Regions from separate parts of the Homo sapiens genome. Here region 2 is linked to region 1. Evidence: fine-mapped expression QTL. Tissue or cell type: blood mononuclear cells. Region 1 holds a variant in brackets; the other region holds the start of a gene. All regions are shown on one strand. Distances are from middle to middle. Region 1 holds the start of LOC124901128 (a long non-coding RNA gene). Region 2 holds the start of TENM2-AS1 (TENM2 antisense RNA 1).

Region 1 (2,913 bases):
ATAATAATAATATAATTAATGTTATATATTGGTTTTAAAAAGATGTCACGTGGGGCAAGTTGCCTGGTCTGGGAAAACGAGGGTTGGCTAAAACTCCCCACTGAGGTTCAGTTGTTACTTCCTCTTGGGAAATCTTCCCTGAACCTCTCAGGCTGAGTGGCATCCCTCTGGGATCCCATCAGACCCTGCATGTACCTCTGTCTTTTCACTTAACCTGTGATCATCCTGTGTCTGCATATTTTATCAGACCCTCAATTCCTTGAGTGCAAAGAACATACTTTAAAAGTTTTGTTCTTCCAGCACTTAGCAAATTACTCAGCACATAGTAGGCACGAACACCAATTCATTGGTTGAACTGGCCAGACAGTGAAAACTGAGGAAGAAGAAGACAGCAAGTGTGAAAAGAAGACCAAAGCTGTCTCTAGTTACAGCGTAATGTAAATCCCCATAGCAGGAAATGGCCGCCTTTTTCAGTCCTAGGAAATGGAAATGGAGAACGTTTTTCCCAAGGTATGAGTCCCAAAGGGAGATGGATTCTACCTTCTGAGTGGAGAGTTTGCCTTTTCCAGGGAATAAAGGGGTATTAGAGGCTTTGAAGCTGGGAAACTTTCTCAGCTCTGTGAGGAAAGTGTATATCCCCTCCCACTCTGTGGTAACAGAGAAACTTTCTCAGCTCTGTGAGGAAAGTGTATATCCCCTCCCACTCTGTGGTAACAGATTGGGTGGAACCACTTACCCGGAGCTTCCTGCCAAAGATGGTGACTTTGCCTTTAATCTGTTCCTTTCTTAGGCGCCACTCAATGGAGTTTAAGCCATTCTCCATAGGCAGGGAGATGTTGCAGCGTCCAATGGTGGGGGTGATGGTGCCCGCTAGGACATGGGGCTCGCTGTGGAAGCTGATACCCATCCCATTAGCATACATCACCCTCAGGGTACCATTATTACAGAGCTGGTAGCTGTTCCGAACTTGATCTGGAAAAATGTAAGTGGGGGTGGGGATAGGGAAATAAATTATCCGCTCTATTAGTCAGAAGAGAATAGAACCCCTATTTTTTTTTAATAGGTTTCCATGGTACTTTGCAGCCATTAGTCGAAGGCTGCCTTCAATTAGCACACATACATACCATGTGAAGGTAAGTAGCAGAGATACTACTGATCCACGTAAAGAAAAACATAATATGTGGCACTCCAGAAATAATTATGCCGTGATGTTTCTTTTACTCACTGAAGACTATTAATAGCACGTTTAAACATTT[A/T]AAGATGTCTATTGCCTACACAATTTGTGTCAATCAAATTCCCGAAGCTTAACATATATATTTTAGCTTATACCAGGAAAAAAAAAAAAAAAAAGAAAGGCAAATGACTTCAGTTTTCCTCCTTTTGCCTGCCGTCTAACCCAAGGTTGCTGGTCTAGCCACAGGCCAGATCCACTACAAATCAAAGCCCAGGATTCTTTCTTTGAGAAAATGGAGAGAAGAAGTCAACCTTCCCCATCCTCATGCTTTTACTGCCGACTGCACCTGATACCACCCCCACTCAAGAGAACTCTGAAGAGACTCAAATACATCAGGGAGCTGGAGTCAGTGGGTGGGTGCTGATAATGTGTTTATCTTCCCCAGTGGAAACTACACGAGTCAATCAGACGTCTGACCTTTTCCTTTACCGAAAAGTTACGGGAAGGAAATGTGAGTCAGAGACTCCTTTTACAGATACACTGCTTCCTGACTGTCTGGGCAAAGGAGCTGGCCTGGGCTGGCCTCTGAGATGTCAGCTTTTGGGGCAGTGAGCAAGTGTGTACCTGTCGCTCCTGTGACTCCAGCCGTCACACGCAGAAGGACAGAATCTACATCATTAATCATTTGGCAGAGCAGAAATAGAGTCATTGAAACAGGCTCCGCTGTGGGATAATAGTCCAGAAATGTCACCATTTATCTACTGAGAGGACACTTTTATCCTCTGACAACGGGCTAGCCCACCGACATTATATCTTAATTAAAAGAAAAATTAATCGGCACAATTCATTTTCTTGCCAGCCCCAGTGCTTGCCCTGGACTGCAAAACATGTCTAGTAGCAACAATAACCACAGGGTGGGCAGAGACCTTTGAGATCCCAGTCTTGGAGAGAGAATGTTAAAGAGCTCCAGTCCCAGGGCAACCAACTCATCAAACAAATGCTTAAAAGAGAGAATCAGGATGGAACAAGAAAATATGAAGTCTAGTGGTGAGCCAGGAGAATAAATGGCCTTTGAGAAGATAACTATGTGTTTTGGGTTGGTGGGGAGAGGTGGTGATGGAAGGGTAAGAGGTAGGGAGAGAGTATGTGGGGGGCGGGTGGAAATGGACATTTTCAGATAACTATGTAGACAGTTCAAATATCTAGACATTTGGCTGGGTGTAGATGACATTCTGTTCTATCTGATTAAGTCATTTTCTACAAGATTGACCTCTTATAGTTTGCTGTGGACACTTGAATAAAATAGAAAGCTAGGGGTACGCTGGGTCTCTGGAAGTCCTCCCAGGCTGCATAACTCACATGTTGGGCTTGGCTGGGTTCTGGGTCTATGGGTGAGTTTGGGGGTAGGATGGTATGGGTGGAGGCTCACCTTGTACCACTGTGTAGGAGGCCTCTACTGAAGAGAGGTTGGTGATGACAGTGACGTCATCATCACGGTTGGAGTTCTCAATGTCAATGGTAATAGATTTCTCCATTTCCCGGTGCAGACTGGTTACCACCCCCGTGGGGCGCGTCACGTTGGTCAGGCGGCCTTCGTGGTCATAGCTGGGGGGAGATAGATAGATAGATAAACCCTGGTTAGCAGCAGTCATTGGGGCTGACAGTGTTCCCAAGACTCACAGGGCCAGAGAAAGAGCTGGGAAGGTGGGTTGGCTGGGTGGCGCATCTCACTGAGGCCC
Region 2 (2,913 bases), 5.3 kb before region 1:
CCTGACCACCCCCCACCCCCGCAATGTGAAGAGGACATTAGTCTACTGTAGGAGAAAATTAGGTCAACTGCCGAGAGAGAAACCCTGCCATGGGATGGAAGGGGGCTGTGAGAAACAGAAAGAGAGACGTCCATCTGATATGGTTTGGCTGTGTCCCCACCCAAATCTTGATTTGAATTGTATCTCCTAGAATTCCCATGTGTTGGGAGGGACCCAGGGGGAGGTAATTGAATCCTGGGGGCCGATCTTTCCCGTGCTATTCTAGTGATAGTGAATAAGTATCACGAGATCTGATGGGTTTATCAGGAGTTTCCGCTTTTGCTTCTTCCTCATTTTCTCTTGATGCCGTCAAGTAAGAAGTGCCTTTTGCCTCCCGCCATGATTCTGAGGCCTCCCCAGCCATGTGGAACTGTAAGTAAGTCCAATTAAACTTCTTTTTCTTCCCAGTCTTGGGTATGTCTTTATCAGCAGCGTGAAAACAGACTAGTACACCATTTAATGACATCTTAGAGTCTCTGAGGCCAGCTTCTCCCTTGTGGTGGCCCTGTTAGGTAAGACAGCGCCTACTCTTCTAAGTTAGTCTGAATGCACTTCCTGTCTCTTGCAGTGGAAGGATTCCAGACAGATGTAGGGGCAATGTATTTGTGAATTTATACCCACTGTGGTGGGGGAGCATTTACACATTAAGAAGGCGCCTATAGAAGGCACAGTTATTACATCTTTCTTTGTCACCTGTTGTCTGAGTACCCACCACATGGCACTTGTCACCAGGGATACAGGGGCGACCTGGTCCCTGCACTTATGGAGCTCACAGATGCCATGATGTAACTGCTTCTTTTTTTTTTGAGATGGGAGTCTCACTCTGCTGCCAGACTGGAGTGCAGTGGCACGATCTTGGCTCCCTGCAACCTCCGACTCCCTGGTTCAAGCGATTCTCCTGCCTCAGCCTCCTGAGTAGCTGGGATTACAGGCATGCGCCACCACACCCAGCTGATTTTTGTATTTTTAGTAGAGATGGGGTTTCACCATTTTGTTCAGGAGGGTCTTGATCTCCTGACCTCGTGATCCACCCGCCTCGGCCTCCCAAAGTGCTGGGATTACAGGCGTGAGACACCACGCCCGGCCTGCTTCATGTTTTTGCAAGGCCAGAGTGAGTGAAGAAAGGAATGGAGGACAATGCGGGAAGGAGGGGGAGGACTCTTTCAAAGGAGATTCTTTGAGGAGTTCTTGGGAGGCATAATGAAAATCTTCCCTGCACTGAGTTTGGGCAGGAATGAAGGGACTAACACTCCATTACAAAGCTTTTGGTGAAAGGATGTGGTCCCGGTCTATCCATCCGCCATCATCTTACATTTCCCCAGGCTGTAAGGAAGAGCCACTGATACTTTCCTCCACTAAGAGATGCCTCCGTCTGGAGGATTGTGGGAAGAAAGGGTACCTAGGTGGGTTGGAATTTCACTGGGCACTGTTCTATTGTGATGGCTTCACTGAGATTGTTGGTCTTCTCTAAACTCCAGGAATGTTCAGAGCCTTGGGCCCTCACACCCCTCAGCTGACCAGGCTCCCAGGAGCTTGCCAGTCCCGGGGACGTTCAGGCTATTTGCTTCATGCATGATACCCACACATTCTCTCCAAATCCCTGCTCTCCACATGGGGAGCAGTGATTACATGGAGCTGGTTAAGTGGCTGCATTTCAAAGTTCATTTAGTTTCTTCTCCATTCCAAGAGGCAGGGCTGGGGCCACCAGAATCTTACATCTCTGGCTTGGGTTTCAGCTCCCAGCCACTCTCTTTTACAGAGCCCACAAAGCGTGGACGGCCACCCAGCCTTCCCAGTTTACATGATCATGGGGAGAGCCTGTCAAAAGGTGAGCATGACACAGCAACCCTGCTAGTTGCCCAATCCTCGTCCTCGTGTGCTAGACATCTCTCAAATCTCTCCCCCTACCTTCTTTCTTTCCTCGCTGCTAGTGATTTAGTTTCTTGTTTGGACTAATGCAGCACCCTCCTTACTGTCCCTCTCCTCCTATCATCTATCTTGTCCCCTTCTCATCTGTCTTCCTCCATACCTGAGGAAGTCAGAGAGATCTTTTCTTTCCTTTTCTTGAGACAGGGTCTTGCTCTGTTGCCCAGGCTGGAGTACAGGGCATGATCAGAACTCACTGCAGCCTCAAACTCCTGTGCTCAAGCAGTCCTCCTGCCTTGGCCTCCCGAATAGCTGGGACTACAGGCATGTGCCACCATGACAGGGTCTCCCTATGTTGCCCAGGCTGGTCTCCAACTCCTGGGCTCAAGGGATCCTCCTGCCTTGGCCTCCCAAAGTGCTAGGATTATAGGCATGAGCTACTGTGCCAGGCCATGGTCGGCTATTTAAACTTTTTTTTTTTTTTTGGTTGTTGTTGTTGTTTGTTGTTGTAGAGACAGGGTTTTGCTATATTGCGGTTTTGCTATATTGCCTAGGCTGGTCTTGTCTTGAACCCCTAGGCGAAAATGATCCTCCCACTTTGGCCTCCCAAAGTGTTGGGAAAACAAGCATGAGCCACTGTGCCCAGGCTGGAGAGAGCTTTCTAATGCCACACATCCCAGCACATCACTCTGCTAATGAAGTCCAGGTAGGGCTCACCATTGCCCTCAGGATAAATGTTAGCCTGGCACCATGTTCTTTTCCATGTGCAGTCTCTGGCTGCATCTTCTTTTTCTACCCTACTCTCTAACACATCCACTGCCACACTGAATTAGTTTTCTGAAATGCCATTCCCTTTTTGGCCTCTTGGCCTTTCCACTGGCGACATTCTTTGTCCTGTCACCTCTGTTCCCTATCTCTGCCTGGCTGATTCTTACTACTCTACAGAAATGATTCCAGCTCCTCTGTGAAGCCCTTCCTGATCTCTTGTCAAACGGGAGACCTGATCAC

Evidence for each region. PIP is the estimated chance that this variant, and not a neighbour inherited with it, causes the effect. A credible set is the group of variants that fine-mapping cannot tell apart.
Region 2: it holds the start of TENM2-AS1, and the variant in region 1 is the best candidate, but not a certain one, in a credible set for the expression of TENM2-AS1 in blood mononuclear cells (TOPMed, PIP 0.57).

Annotation. Positions count from the first base shown.
Region 1 is chr5:168,225,954-168,228,866 of GRCh38, reverse strand. It overlaps TENM2 (teneurin transmembrane protein 2), which reads right to left. Exons shown (of 31, transcript NM_001395460.1): 26 at 2,604-2,779; 27 at 737-972. It overlaps LOC124901128 (a long non-coding RNA gene), which reads left to right and starts at 968. Exons shown (of 2, transcript XR_007059038.1): 1 at 968-1,133; 2 at 1,402-2,257. RefSeq lists an enhancer at 426-515. The variant A/T (reference allele first, on the strand shown) is at 1,257.
Region 2 is chr5:168,231,258-168,234,170 of GRCh38, reverse strand. TENM2-AS1 (TENM2 antisense RNA 1) reads left to right here and starts at 1,799. Exons shown (of 3, transcript NR_109894.1): 1 at 1,799-1,867. All of the region lies in intron 27 of TENM2 (teneurin transmembrane protein 2), which reads right to left.